2 separate regions of the Homo sapiens genome follow, and region 2 is linked to region 1. The links come from fine-mapping of genetic effects on gene expression. Tissue or cell type: whole blood. Region 1 holds a variant in brackets; the other region holds the start of a gene. All regions are shown on one strand. Distances are from middle to middle.

What was found. PIP is the estimated chance that this variant, and not a neighbour inherited with it, causes the effect.
Region 2: it holds the start of UBL3, and the variant in region 1 is fine-mapped to the expression of UBL3 in whole blood (INTERVAL, PIP 0.94).

The regions. Positions count from the first base shown.
Region 1 is chr13:29,936,168-29,944,275 of GRCh38, forward strand. It overlaps LINC00544 (long intergenic non-protein coding RNA 544), which reads left to right and starts at 364. Exons shown (of 5, transcript NR_033889.1): 1 at 364-534; 2 at 1,035-1,114; 3 at 1,739-1,842. The variant C/T (reference allele first, on the strand shown) is at 4,756.
Region 2 is chr13:29,845,864-29,853,971 of GRCh38, forward strand. UBL3 (ubiquitin like 3) reads right to left here and starts at 4,754. Exons shown (of 5, transcript NM_007106.4): 1 at 3,649-4,754. The coding sequence starts at 3,675. RefSeq lists enhancers at 3,320-3,389, 3,860-3,929, 4,600-4,669 and silencers at 4,230-4,529, 4,800-4,909.

The sequences.
Region 1 (8,108 bases):
AGTTGACAAAAGCACAGCAAAGCAGGGAGAGCCTCCTCGGTAGAGAGCAACGACCAGGTGGGTGTGGGTGTGGAGAGCAGTGGGGCCCACCTGGGCAGGTGCGGGGGGATGGGAGGAGGGGCTGAGAGTGCTCTCTAAGTTAAGGTCACGGTGTAGAGGAGAGGACTTGAAAACTTCCTGCAGCAGCTTCGTGGCCCGGTGAAATGTTCTCAGCAGCAAGCATGAAGCTCTGATTTGTAAAAAAATCAATACGGCTTGCATGCCAACTATGCCTTCTCCAATCCTGCATTTGTGATGTCAGAGGTTGTCATTCTGGGCTATGGAGCAAACCTTTCAGGGTTGACCCAGTCCTTCTAGGTCATGTGGAGTGGGCCAGCTTTAATGAACCTGTCTAAAAGGAAGGAAGAGAAAGAGCTCAGCTCCTTAGGGGAACAAGGTGGACCTTGGCAGCTGTCTCACTCCTCACCAGCTCTTCACCTCAGATCTTGTCCTGACTTCCTGGTCCACTAACGGCCTCCTGGATAGAAGAGTCAGGTAATGATCCCTGCCTTTCAATACTCATTGCTCAGTTTCAACAATCATCAACAATTTGCCAATCTCATTTCATCTCTCCTCTTATCTTTTTCCTTTTCTGGAGTATTCAGATCCTCTCACTTTCTGAGTGGAACTAAGAGTCTTCCTCACCTTCATCACCACTATTAGCTTATAAACCTCTTTTAAGGACAGGGATTCACCTCAGCTCAATTATGTTTTGTTACACACGTGGTACCCATCTTCTGTGTTGAGAGATGTTTGAATTATACAGTTTTTAGTGCATTAAGTGTTAGTGTTTGGGATCCAATTTGGCTCACTCTAGATGAGCTATAGAGTCTTCATTTTTTCTCCTCTCCCTTTTTCCTTCTTGAGTTAAAAATCACAGTTACCCAGCCTCCCCATACCTCCCCCCGCACCCTATATTACCACTTGTTTTTCTTTCTTTTTTCTAACCACACCCTGAGGCATTTCACCAGCAACTCTTTATTATCTAACCACAGTTCACCAGCCCAGGAGATGTTCTGAAAATTGACAATGATCATGATATACCCTGGATCCAGAATACTTCTCTATACAATGGGTGTGTATAAAGACAGACAGACCTGCCAGGCTCCATCAGGAAAGCTCTGTGTCTCCTTCACATGTGGAGGGACAGAATATTATCTGGAGATGGAGAATGCTTCTGAGAGCCTCTAGCACAGGGATCCCCAACCCCACAGCCTCGGGCAGGTCCCAGTCCCAGTCTGTGGCCTGTTAGGAACCGGGCCACACAACCGGGGGTGAGCGGTGGGCAAGTGAGCGTTACCACGTGAGCTCTGCCTCCTGTCGGATCAGCCGGTAGCATAAGAGTCTCATAGAAGCGTGAACTCTATTGTGAATTGCGCAAGTGAGGGCTCTAGGTTGGGTGCTTCTTATGAGAATCTAATGCCTGAGGATGAGGCAAAACAGTTTCATTCCAAAATCATCCCCCGGACCCCATCTGTGGAAAAATTGTCTTCCATGAAACCCGTCCCTAATGCCAAAAAATTTGGAGACCACTGCTCTAGTAGGCCTGCCTACTGGGCTTACTTTGTGTATATGAAATTGATAATTATTCCTCGTTTCAGAAATTTAAAATGTTACATTTATATTTCTTTCATATTTCCAACATTGTACCAAAGGTCAGTCCTAGAATGCTTTGTTTTAGCTGTTTTTCTTTCCTTAGGCAGAGAACAAAGATTGGTGGCTTCCTCCTGAGCACACTGGGATGTGGCATTACATCGGGGCTGCTGAGTGCCCTTACCTTCAGCTGCCCAGATGCAGAGGCAGGTGGGTGGGGCCAGGGAGTTTGATGCTTCACCTCCTTAAGTGAGAACTGCATCATGCAAACAGTCAGCTCTCAGCCAGATGGCACCACAAGGTTCTGTGAATTTCTCTCAGCACAACAAGCACATCTGCCAGTTGGGTTCCAATGCTGTTTTCTCTTTTCTTCTCGGCACTAGACACCAGGGCTTTAATTACACAGCCAAACTCAGCCGCAGAACACTCCCCAGTCTCGTCCTGGCTGGGCCCAGGACCTCCCCACCTCTTCAAAAGCCCCAAAATGGAACGATCATGGCCGGTCATCAGGGCCGGCAGGTGCAAAGGTGCTAAGTGGGCTGAGCTGACCCTGTACTCCTCTTGGTTCTCTCTGTAATGATCCCCTCTTCCTCACAGGCCCCCTTTGCCCTGATCTCGCCCTCCCACCTGCTGTCGGAGGGCCCCTCATGGAGATGCTCAGCCAGGCCCAGACCTCAGCGCTCCCTTGGCCTGGCCTTTCCACTGGGCTTCCTCGTGTCCTTAGTGCCCGGGTCCCCAGGGGAAGGCTTGGCCAGAGAGCTGCTTGGAAGCAACAGTTATTACGTAGACAATTGACAGAAATCTGTGTGGTTGTGCGGCCACACTCCTTTGTCAATCCTGCCCAGATATCCTGCTTTCCTCATAACAGCCAGCATTTTTCTGAGTGCTCACTATGTGCCAGGCACTTTACTGTATTAACTCATTTAATCCTACAACAACCTTATGAGGTAGGTGCTGCTGTTAATCACATTTTACAGATGAGAAAACTGAGGCACAGAGAGGTTCAGCCCCTTGCCCCAAATCACCCAGCTAGTAATGAGCAGAGGTGGGATTCATATCTAGGATTCTAGCCTGACTCAAGAGCCAAAAGGCTTTTAAAAGAAAACCTGAAACTACGTACAATTCCATATGACATGGAAAAAATTAAATAAAGTTCTTGGCTCAAAGGGTGGCATTGTGATGCTTTCCTTTTCCCTTTTCATCTTCTCATTTCCACTCTTAAAAAAATTATTTTTCTCACACAGTGACTGTGACAAGAGTAAATATGATAGTGGAGGTTCAGATAATGTGAAAAACCAGTGGAGGAGACAATTTTAGGTGGCTTTGCTGTGTCCTCTTCACCTGACAGAGGTGGGCACCCTTAGGTCTGGTTTATGATCTTGGCCAAGCCTCAAAAAGGGAAGACCAAAACTCCTAGAAGCACCCCGTGGTTATAGAGTTGTTAGGGAAATGCGGTATGCAAAGCCTCTGAAAGGAAAGGATCCAAGCTTAGGGATGTGAGGATCTACTAAAATTGTAAGGGACACATGAATAAGAGGGAGATTGATCTGTGACGATGAGTTGGCAAAAAATGAAAATATGCACAAACTCCCCACCATGGAGGAGGCCTCGTGTGCGGGAAAAGGCATTGTTTCTGCCCTTTGGATGTGTTGAAGGATGCTCTAGAATAGGGAAAGTCATTAAAAACTAAATCACAGAGGAGCATGTGACACAGGGCATAGTGCAAGGGGAGTTTAGAGAGGGTATCAGGCAAATCAGCGAGGTGTAAGGGCAGAAGGATGAAGCTGTGGCTTTGAGAGAGGACTTGGAGGCTGAGGAGAGCTCAGATGTCACCAGGCAAGACCTTAGTCCCAACCCACATGGTCGTTGCCTCCACTGTCCTTCCAAGATGCTCCAGCCAGGGCCCATGTCCATGCTCCCTGGATCTCTTGCCTCCAGCTACAGTACCTGCCATGCAGCTGGTGCTCAAGATACTTTTGTTTTAAAATATCAGTGAATAAATGAATAAGCACAGCCGTTGAGTTTTTAACCATTAGGTCAGTCAGGTGTATGAAATTTGAAGAGCCACTTACACGTCTTGATTGAATTCCCCTTTGTCTTGCCAGTTTCTCCCTTTTCCTTTACTGCACCTTTCAGATTTCTCAGCGTAGCCTTCATTCATAGTGTCACTCACAGTGGGATACGTCAGGCTGCATCCACTGTGTTATTCGGTGTGTCACCAGTGCCTTGACTAGGACACAGATAGCCTTGAAAGAGTGGTTACCTTCACTAATAAGCATTATGCAATGTCTTCACTGCCTTCTCTTGGCTCTTTTGGTCTCCATCCTGAATCCTACTGATGTGATCTTTGGTGATGGCGCTGGGTGAAGGTGGTGCTGACAGTAAGATGTGCACAGGCTCACCTCTAGCTCAGCCTCTACCTCACTCTGGAACCCCAAGCTCATCCCCCACTATACGATGGGGGTGGCAGGACTTGCCCTGGATCCCCGACAGGGTTATCACCAGAGAGACAGTTGGGAAAGCTCATTGAAAAGTTACTGTTCTGGCTAGGCGTGGTGGCTCACGCCTGTAATGCCAGCACTTTGGGAGGCCGAGGTAGGCGGATCACCTGAGGTCAGGAGTTTGAGACCAGCCTTCCCAATGTAGTGAAACCCCATCTCTACTAAAAATACAAAAACTTGCCAGGTGTGGTGGTGCATGCCTGTAATCTCAGCTACTCAGAAAGCTGAGGCAGGAGAATCACTTGAACCCAGGAGGTGGAGGTTGCAGTGAGCTGAAATCGCACCACTGCCCTCCAGCATGGGCTACAAGAGCGAAACTCTGACACACACACACACACACACACACACACACACACACACACACACGAAAACAAAAGAAAAGTTACTGTTCTATTAAATGTACTCTCTCTAATGAATGAAATCTTCCTGCATATAATGATTTGAGCCTTCTCCATAACTCTTCACTCCTTTTTACACCAATTTTTGTTTTAATGGGAAGAAAAAAAACCCTATGCACTATTTCCTCCCCTACCTTTTCTAGTTAGGATTAAACAGAAGAAAAATGGTGGCACCATTCCCAGAGGTCTTCAGCATTTGAACTTTACACTAGAAAACTCTCAAT[C/T]CAAAGCTAAAATTCATATGTAACCAATGTCCTTAAGCTAACAGCTGCTTGCACATTCAAAAAAGCTTTGTATTTCTCTCTTCATGTCACTGTTAACTCTCTATTTCTCTTTAGCTATTTATCAGCCTCTGAGAAAATCTCCCGGCAACTCCTCCCCACATAAAACTATTCTAAATCCATGTGAAGCCCTTAATTTAATCAACACATTACCATTTCCTAACAAAGGGTAAATGAGATCAACTAAATTTACACCAGGAAGAAAGGAAATTAATTTTACTCAATTATAAAAAGGAGGAGGCTTTACACAGGTAACAATTTAACAATTGTAGTAGTGGGGATTATGGAAAACTCTGAATCAGGATGCCAGGAGGTCACCCACTGCTGATAGGTTTCAAAATAACTCCCCAAATCCTGACAGTAACAATTTAGTGAAGGCCCAAGAGCCGAGATAGTCCTTAAGTAATGAAAAATGATGACAGCCTAAAAAGAGGGAATTGCATAATAATCAGAATTTAGATTTGAGACACTGATAAGTCACCTGTAAATAATCCGCAGAGCTTGCCTTTTAGCTACTTCTAAGGCTTGCAGACAATGCATTGTTTAAGCTATGTTCAGAAGACACCCAGCACCTTATTTTCTAGAACCAGATTTTTCTGTGGGTAGAAGGGAAGAAATCCAGGATTTATGGCAGATGTACAGTAAAATATAAACTAAGATGATTAAAACAAAATGGACCCTGGACAGTAATGCTAACTGGCACACTAAGATCAATGGATGTGGATTCATATAAGCTGTCTAGAGACCAGCTGGTAAAAATAGGGGGAATGGTTAGAAATTATAACCCACTCCAAGCTGGAAAACATGCCAACCGTATTGTGTTATTCTGGGGCACAAATTATAATTCTACAACACATTAAAGAGAAAATTGTATGGGAAGCTAGAAGTCATTTTCTTATGCTTCCCGCTCATAGGGAGCCACATGCCATTTGGATTACTGCACTTTTCAAAGTACATGGAAAGACTTGAGACAATCCAGAGAAGAATGACACAAACAAAAGGGCAGGACTCATGATGGAAAAGAGGCCCCATGAGGAAAGGCTAAAGAGTCAGAACTACTGAAGCTAAAGAGGAAAACTCAAGTAACGAAACATTATTGCTTTCAAATATGTGACAGGTATTTGGCTAGAAGTTATCACTGATACGTTTCCAGAACACATGGAGGCCAAGGCAGACAAAAGTAAAGATGGAAACCAGACCAGTAAATAAGTCCTTTGATGAACTTCTGAGTCTCTACAGATGAAGGCAAAGCTCCCTCACAGTTGCAGGCAACGTCTCATCTTTTGTCACTTCTGGCATGACACTGCACAGCCACAGCCAGTACGGTATCTCTGCCTTTGCCCATGTCCTGCCTTCTTTCTCCCTGGTCGGTATCTCCTCACCTCAACCAGCTTGGCCAGCTCCTTGGTCATTGGGGTTGCACCCACCCAGGCATGTGCCTGGCTCCGCACAACCTCAGAAGCTCTCAGTACAGTGCAGGACCAGAGGTTGAAACCAATGAAAGGTTGTTAAATAAAGAGAAAATGTTTAATGCTGAGAACAAAGACTAGGAAAGAGATGTCTAATAAGAAATTTTACAGTGAAATACCATGTGTTGTGCTCTGTAACTTCGTCTCCATCTCCCTAACATAGTGTTTAGTGAAATCTACAGTGCTCACTCATGCTTTGTGGAGTCTGGGGGTGAAAGCTTGTAGATATCCAACATTTGCATAACACTAGAAAGTCCACTTTGCCCTCTCCGAGAAAATCTAGTGATCCTGCTGTTTATATCTGATTCAGATCCCTCAATAAGAGTTCTCTTGGTCTCATTTTCATACTGATCCTAAGAAGCATTCACTAACTAGGCTGTACCTACCTAGTACAGCTCTGTCCATATGGTAGATCTGCAATAGATTCTTGGGATCTTATGGTAATTAGATAGCACGCCTATTCTGGAATAGTGGCAATTTGGTTATTCTCTTACACTGACCAAGCATGTGTTAGCTCACTGATGCCCATCTATGTAGGTATTTAGATGCATTGTCCTGGGAGACACCCAGCTTCCTGGGAAGATGGGGATGGAGAGTCTCCTGAAGTATCCTGAAGTTCTTCACTGTCTCCCTTGACAGGGATCCTGGGTAAACTTCATGAAGACCTACAGGGAACTGGCAGCTGGCCTGTTCTGCTATGAGAGAACTCTCTCGATAAGCCCTATTATTTTCCTGAAACCATGTTACATTATAAGAGGCTGGAAGGGATGGTGAGAAATCATTTATTCCATGGTTCTCTGGGCAGAACAGCACTCACCCATCGCAGAAGCCTCCACATCCTCTCATTATGTCTTATCTTTTTATTTGTTTCCAAGCCACATTCATCTCCAAAGCAAACCTTTGTTATGTTTACTTGAGAACACCACAGTTTCCCATTGCATCTCTCACCCCCTTGTCAAAACTATGCAAATTAAGAATAACCCCAATCTGGTTGAGATTGTTTGTAACTGAAAAGTAATTGGGTTATAATATGCTAATTCTTATGCTAATATTTGGCTCCAAAGATAAAGAGACCTGAAATGCTAATGTGAGAGTCCTCCCACAAAGAGGATTACAAGCAGGAAGTTTGCAGAAGAAAGGAGGGGACCCGAATGGAGCAAGGACTAGAAACACAGGCCCTTTAGAAATCATTGGGGGGTTTCGTTGGTTTGTTTCTTTATACTTTCTTTTATTTTGCAAATTTTCTATGATTACTATGTGTTACCGTAACACTTAGCAGGAAAAATAACGTAATGTCTAAAGAGAAAAAAGAATGAGGAACTTTCTCGGAGCAGAAGTAGATGAAGGAAAGGCCGAGGCTGGCCTTACCAGAGCCTCTCCCAGGAAACGGTCAGGCACTGACCTGAGCCGGCTTCCCAAGACAGGAAGAGTTGGTTTCAGGGAAAATCCATGTCTGGGATCCAGGGAAGTTGATGAGTCAGCTTTCAGGTGGGTGAGAGAACAGTGGCTCCAACCTGGGCCTCAGGACCACTGGGACTGAGAGGAAAGGGAAATAATATCTTCAAACCTGGTGGAAGAGGTCAATGTGAGCGTATTAGAACCATACCCTGTCGATGTTTCTCCATTCATTTCTTCAAGGAATATTCTACAAATATCTGTTACCCTCTTTGTACAGTACACTCTGCTAGTCTCTGTGGGTACTGGGAAGATGAATAAAGAGGAACGAAGATGCTTCCCCAGTCTGAAGAGCAGGGGCTTTCTCTGTGAGCCTGTGAAGGAGGCGGTGCAGGCATCAACCTGCTGAGGCCTTCACACCCCTCCTTCTGG
Region 2 (8,108 bases), 90 kb before region 1:
CTCACACTGTCAATTTCTCTCTTAAAGTTTTCAATGTAATAGATAAAGTATAATTTTAGTCCAAAGCTCTAAATAGTAGCCTAAATGTTGTATACAATACTCTTATAAAAACAAGAATGTATTTCTTGATAACTTTACCAATCCAGAAAACAAAATTACCATTGCTTGCCCAGTCTTAGGCCTTATTACTAACACAGGCAGTAAATATTTTCTTGCAAAAAACCTACAGTGGTTAACATAAGTCACACTGCAACTATAAACAATGAATATAGCCGCATCATGAACTATGATCTTGGCTGCAACATAAATAAATAAATACATCATTTAAATACAATATATTATAATGATATTCTGTTGAGATATTTTCAGATTTTTTCACAAATAAGTTACTACACTAAGATGTTATTAAATCTAGTTCAAACTCAATCACTCTTAGCAAAGAAAAACCAACATTTCAAGTAAATACACTTGTAATATTTATAGGACATATATATTGCAGAATGTAGTAAAAGTACCAACTACAAATTATGTTTTAAAGGGTACAGCAAATCCATTCACTACGGGTGCCACTCCCTCATCCAAAAAATTGACATTTGGATCATTAAAAATGAGACTCCTTATGCTAAACACAAAAATTTACTGGATGTTCAAAAATAAATTTTAAATGGGAGTTCTACCTACAAAACAAAAACCAAAGCTAAAAAATCTATTTTAAAGTGAGTCATAATCACGGCCATAAAAAGACTTTACCAAAAACATCAATTGATTTAGCAATTATTGTAGCTCGAGAATAAATTATCTCTATTGGAAACATGATAGGGGTTAACTTCACCACTCCATCCCATCTCCCCAACAGGATTTTCCTATACAACTGACAAGCACCATTAACATATAAAAGATTGACTTCAATAGAAATGACACCACCACCAAAAAGTAAAAAAGTGTAACATTTGTTTCAGCACAGTTGACAGCACATACTGTCAACTAGGAGAAAGCTTAACATTTTACTGCATCTAGCAAAAATGTATTTAACAGTACATATCCTGATCAATTTAGAGTTATGCTGCAAGGGATATATGTCATTAGCTTTGCTGTGGGAGTGGTGAGAGGAGCTCTTCAAGGTTTGGAGCGGTAAATTGTTGTCATGAATGTAAACTAAAATCAATTGTCAATTCATGGTATTAAGAGTTTAATAATCATGAAGCATTTAATCGACAACTTCTAACCAGTATTTGTCATGTTATATTTCAAAAAGTTGAGAATTCTAGGCACATAGCAAATGATAGACTTCTTAAGCAAAAATGCAAAGTTAAGTAATAAACGAACGTTTAAAAGACTTTCACAAAGAGAAAATCTTAACCTCTAACCAGTTGAACAGTAGAAAACAAGACATAAAAAAATACTCAGAACAATCAAACCTGTGCTGTACGTTAGTACCCACTCTGAAATAGCATCATCAGGGCATTATATATTTATTACATAATATTGCTTTGCCCTTGCATATCACCTTTAATCAAAGGATCTCAAAGCACCACAGAATCAAGGCCTTAACATCCAGTCTCAAACAGATAAACTGTTATATTTTATAATTGCAGATATTAATAAAACCCTGCTCCTACTTCCCAGTCCTCTGATCCTAACATCAGCCTCCAAACCCTCTCTCTGACTTGGAAACAGTATTTCCCAAATCATCTCAATCTGTGACTGATGCCACGCACATTCCAGCTTTTCTTCACTGGACCTAAAGGAAGTAGCGGCACTGTTTTAATAACACATCTATTTCATTCCAACGTCTGTGAGAGAATAGACGGTACTTAAGGTTAACCTATTTTGCACTGTGCTTGATGATATAAAATGGAGGCTTTCGAGAGAGCAAATCTTTGCTCGAGGCGATGAACCCACAGATCACTCATCAAACAAGGGAAATAGCATTTCCCAGCTCTGTCTAGAGACCGCTCCCGGCAACTTCAAGAGCAGTATGGAGGAAAGCTTGTCCAGCCGTACTTAACCAGGCAGGAGGCTATTTCATGTGTGCACACCAGAAGAGAAGCGAAAACTAAAAGGACAACGCACGAGTTTTAGGACTCAGGAAGGAGACTGTAAAGCTGTTATGTGGCCACCCCCAGAGACAGAACACTGTGTTTCCTTTGCATTCAATGGGAAATTAAACAAGAGCAAAATTCCTTTAAACCAAGGTCAAAATAAGCCATTTAGAATCATTTAATTTTTGTTATAAAATCTGTATATGAGGTTTGCTCCTCTAGAAACATCTGGCGTTTTAAAATTTAATCATCAGCAGGCTGGGCGCAGTGGCTCACGCCTGTAATCCCAGCACTTTGGGAGGCCAAGATGGGTGGATCATCTGAGGTCAGGAGTTTGAGACCAGCCTGGCCAACATGGTGAAACCCTGTCTCCACAAAAAAAAAAAAAAAAAAAAAAAAAAATTAGCCAGGTGTGGTGGTGGGCACCTGTAATCCCAGTTACTTGGGAGGCTGAGGCAGGAGAATCGCTTGAACCCAGGAGGCAGAGGTTGCAGTGAGCCGAGATCGCGCCATTGCACTCCAGCCTGGGCAACAAGAGCAAAACTCCGTCTCAAAAAATAAAAATTAAATTAAAATTAAATTAAAATTAAAAAATAAAATAAAATTTAATCATCAGCAAAGTTCAATTTGTTTCCACTGAATACACAAACACTCAAATGTTAACATATGTGAGCACAACTACGTTAACTTCAATTCTTTCATAAACAGGATTATTCCTCTTCCTGGTAATTAAATGCATTATGTTTGTCCTTAGGACTGCAAAATGTAACTTCACACTCACACAAGCCCAGCCCCAGCACTGTAAGGTTACACGGTTACTGTTAGTCAACCGACTCACAACCTTACCCTTTATAAACAAAACAAAGAAAGGCGTCAATAAACAACAGTACTTTTTGTTTCAAGTTCTCAACACTCAGTGATCGAGGCTCAATACTATGTTTCCTTAGCTTTATGTCTAATATGGAATCTACTATTAATAAATATCTGGCATTAAAAAGCCCTGGAATATTCATTGTAAGTACCAATACAGGGTCAGCCTACGTTTCTGAAAATCCCAAAATATCTTTATATTTCTGTTGCCATCCGTATTCAGACATTTCAAAAACCTCACAGCAAATTCTAACATACTTTTTCTTGAAGAGATGTGCATCCCTGTTCTTGAAAAATATCAAGTTCGTCCCTACTGCAATGACGATCTCGTCTGTGTCATAAAGCAAGATTCCCGTTTCCCTACCTATTCTCTCGTAGGGACACCCGTCCTCAGCTCTGCCCACTGTCCCTGACGTTTTCAGAAACGTTAAAATACTAGTGTTCGGAGGCTTCTAGCGAAGAGGGAGATGTTTTGTCCCCTCAAGCTACCATGATACATTTCCCTACTTCTCCACTATCTTCAATGCTTTAGAAAACACGACCAAATGAGAGAACCCATATTAAAAGCAGTACTTCCTAAAAGGGGGAAACCAGAAGCTCCAACTTCTCCAAATCGCTCAGCACAGTGGCTTTTCGACAGTCCCCAGCAAATCTTCGCCCCACGCCTGCCGTCTTTCCGATTAAATAAGATTGGAAACCACAATTAAATCAGTGTCATAACTTATCCGTCACTTACCATATCCGCCGGGACATTACTGGACATCTTGCCGTTTGATATACACCCAGATGTTTACGAAAAAAACAAACAAAGAAAAAAGAGCAGAAGTCTTCACGTTACAGAAATAAACCACGATTTTGACTGGTTCGTGATGTGCTTTCTCCCCCAAAAATAAAGTTATTTTGGAGCCAAAGTGCCGGTCAGGCCGAGGTTCTGGTTCGAAGAGGAACAATCCCCAGGAGCTGTGTGGCCGGAGCAGGAGGAAACTCCCGGGACAGCAGAGGCAGCCCCCGTCGTCGTCGTCGTCGTCAACAGCAGCAGCAGCCCCAGGACCGGCCGCGCCAGGTGGACCGAGCCGAGTGACACACGGACATGGAGAGGGGTGGGAGGGGGTTAAATGCGCCTTCCTCCTTTCCCAGCCCCGGCAATGATTCACACTTGCTCCCGAGTCAAGTCCTCATTAAGCAGGAGAAAAATGCCCCAGCGTGGATGTACACAGATAACTATGTAGCTACACATCGACGCGTGAGCCTTGAGTGGCGGCCGAGCGGTGGCCGGACGCTGGCCGCGGACCCTGCAGAGCCGCTGTCGGAGCGCCCGCGCGGACAGCGCGGGGAAACGGCTCAACTCGCGCCGCGGGGGCGAAGAGCCGGGCCGCGGAAACCCGCGCTCAAGGGCATTTAACTAGTTGGAAGCCAAAGCGAAAGACCGGAGCGGGGGACCGACAGCGCGGGGGTGCTCGGGGCCGGCCGGGACACTCCACAGCCCCTCTGGGCTCAGGCCGCGGGCGCCTCCGGACAGCAGCTGGGGTCGGGGCGCATCGTCTCCGGCTCCTCGCCACTCCTCTTCTGCCTCCGCCTTCCCCGCCGCCGCCTCCCCGGTCTCCGCCTTCCCTTCCCCTCCCCTCCCCGGCCTCGCGAGCTCCGGGCGACGCCGACTTCGGCTGGTCCCCGGAAGAGGCCGGGTCCTCCTTCTCCTCAGCCCGGGAATGGTTTCCTCTCAGAGCTTTGTTTCTCCTCCTCCTCCTTCACTTTTCAGTCCCACACGCCGCGGCCGCCTCCTGTCATCGCCTCTCAAACCAACATGGCGGCAGCGGCGGCGGCGGCGGCTGCCTGAGTGCGACTAAGGGAAACGGGGAGAGCACGGGCCCCCCCTCGCAGCAGCCGCCGCCCCCGTCCTCGTCCTCCCTCCGCGGACACCAAGTGCGTCACCACGGAGACCATTCCCTCGAGCATCACGGGAAGTGTAGTCTACGAGGGTGGGGGGGGGAGGGAGCCGCCGAACGCCTCCTCACCCAGCTCCGAAGCCACGCCCCCCATAGCAACAGTTGCGAGGAAAGGAAAGCTCCCTTTCCCTTGCTTTGGACAAGCTGCTGCCCAGGAGTTAAGTGATACCTGCTACCAGGAGTGCTGTGATCATGAGAATTGTTGGGAGAAAATAATTCTGCATAGAGAAATTCCCTTATGCACGATATGCACACAGAGCTAAAATATGCTGTACCTCCAAGCAGAATCATTCATTTTAATTACAGCACATTCTCCACATCCTGCAATCTCAATGCATTTTGTAGAGTGATTTCATCTAGGTCTCCTCAACATTACATTTTGAAGAACAAAAGCAATCATTGATTTCCAATAAGGTCACATAAGTTCAACAGGAACAAGGATCTCATTAAGCAGTGAGAATATTTGAACATGTGTTTCCTTGAAGACCCAGGGCAATAAAGCTACAATCTACTTAACTGAAATTACCAAAACTGTATTACATACAACAGTGTTATTATATCAAATCTGTATCAGGAAATAGCTACTACAAACTTCATGGGGATTCACCAGTTTACCCATCTGGACCCTAAATTCTATTCTATGTAACTCATAATGTAATTGAAAACCTATATGCCTTGCAGTGATTAGCAAATAGGAGAAAATAATGCCATTGTTGAGACACCATTCAGATGGACATTTGTGATTTCTGCATTTTGTTCCTAAATCTGAGGTCAACATCTGAATCCCTATTCATATCTCTTAGTCCTTTGACAGAGTACTTTAGAAAGGGCAGTCTCAATATGATGCCTATATATAAATGCCAATGAATTTAGAGTCTGAAAGCCACCTCTCCAACCTACAGCTGTGTGACCTCATCTGTAAAATGGTCTTGCCTACCTTCCGGGGTAAAGTAGGGGTAGTTATGAGGATGAGTTCATGCATGGGAAATAAATCACTTTGTAAATAATAATGCATCATTTGATATGAAATGTCACTACTCATTCTCTCATTCAGCAAACAAATGTGCCAGGCACTCTGCTAGGCACTAGGAGTTTAAAAATGAGTCACTGTAGCGAACAGCAGCATCATGTGGCAGAAATGCCAAGGTCTTGGGTTGGCAATGGGGGTTATTACATCCTTGTCTATAGGGCTGTTGAAAAGAGGCAGAATCCAGTCACTGTCCTCAGGGAGCTCATTGTCTAGAAGCCTACGTGATTCCCCACAGCAATCTCTCCAGTTGGGTTTCTCATCAGTTGGAAACCCACAGGACATTTAGAGTACCTGCCTCTTGAGTAGCCTGGGTGGAGAAATTCCAAACACTCCTAAGGGCCTATATCACCCTGAGGAAGATAGATCAAATTCTCCGAAAAACCAAAGGCCAGAAGAGAAGAGAGGCCCAAATCTCACTGTGATTAGGCTTCAGGACTTTGTCTAGATATTTCCAAGTCCATAGTTACGTGATTTTCCATGGCCTTTGTTACTTGGTTGCTCATTTGCAATGTTTAGCAACCACAGAGTCCCCCTACCCCTACACCAGCCCCCCAGGAAATAAGGGCAGGTGAAAATACTTCAATTGACCAATGAGCTCAGAAGGAATATTGGAGCACATTTTGAAAGCTCTAACTCACAGAGTTAGTCCCTCCACCATACCCTTGACTCCAACTTTTATCCAATGACCTCCCTGGCCATGGCACTGCCTGGCCATGGCACTGCCGGGCCTAAGTGCCACTGTAAGTAGAAAGGCAAGAGTTGCTGTTTGCTGCAGGTTACCACTGCCACCTTTACAAAAGGCAATGTCTTTCAAAAGTCGCTGTGTTTCCAATTACTCTTCTAAGAGGGGCTGAGACATTATTCTCAATAAAACTCATTATAACTCATCCCTAACATTGTTAAGGCATGAGGTAACATTATTGGACACAGTTGCAGATTTTTCCACTCTTTCTTTTCTCTTTGCTTCCCAGCTCAGGCGGGTGAGGTGGGAGGCTGTAGAAAGGAGTTCAGCTGTCCCAAGCAGGAAAAGGTAGCATCTTCTTGACACCAGGAATCTATTGTCAGCATCAGTTGGAAGAAAGTGAATGACACAGCATTTTTGTAATGGGAAAAATAACTTCATAGGAAGTCAAAAGACCTGGCTCTGCCACGAATTAGTTATGTGACCTTTTGCCTCTCTGAGTTTCAATTTCTTCATCTGAGAAGCTTGAACTAAATCTCTAAGGTCCCTTCTAAGAGTCTATGAGTGTCAAGTCCTGGAAAAATAGGGCATGACACCGATGGCCTGTTAAAAATATCTTCCCTAAGTGACTACTTATGGGTAGGAGGGATTTTGGGGGAACAGGGAAGGTGGAATGATGACAACCTAAAATTAGATTTTGGCGATGGTTGTAGAACTCTGTAAATACACAGGAAACCACTGGATTGTACACTTTAAATGAGTAATTTTTTATTTGTTAAAATGTAGCAAAATACACATAACATAAAATTTAACATCTTAGTCTTTTTTACATTTTCAGTTCAGTGGCATTAAGTACGTTCACACTGTGCAACCACCACCACCATCCATTCACAGAACTCTTTTCATCTTGCTCCCTGAACTCATTAAGCACCAACTCCCCTTTCTGTCTCTCCCAAACACCATTCTACTTTCTGTTTCTATGTTTTTTTACTACTCTGAGTACTTCATATGAATAGAATCATATGGTATTTGTCTTTTTGTGGCTAGCTTATTTCACTTAGAAAAATGTCTTCAAGATTTATCCATATTATAACATGTCAGGATTTCCTTCCCTTGTATGGCTGATTAATTTTCCATTGTATGTATATACCACATTTTATGTATTCATTTATCCATGGATAGACACGTCAATTGTTTCTACCATAGAGCTATTGAGAAATGAGTGGATTTTATAATATGTAAACTATATCTCATACATTTGTTAACAAATATATCTCCCCCATCTACCATGTAAGTGTCTAAAATGGCTCCCATCTTAAGATCATTCCTGAAGGATCTTCTCAAGGAACCTCATGAAGTTAAAATAACTAAATGGAAGAATTACTTTCTGTGAAACCAGTAAACTTTTATCATGTGGTTCTTTAGTTGATTATCTCATGATGCCATGCTCTGTCATTTACAAAGGATCAGAGAGTAGGAAAATGCCATAAGAAGCAGAGACAGCCTTTGCCATCTCCATTCAGTTTTGCTCAAGGCTGGCC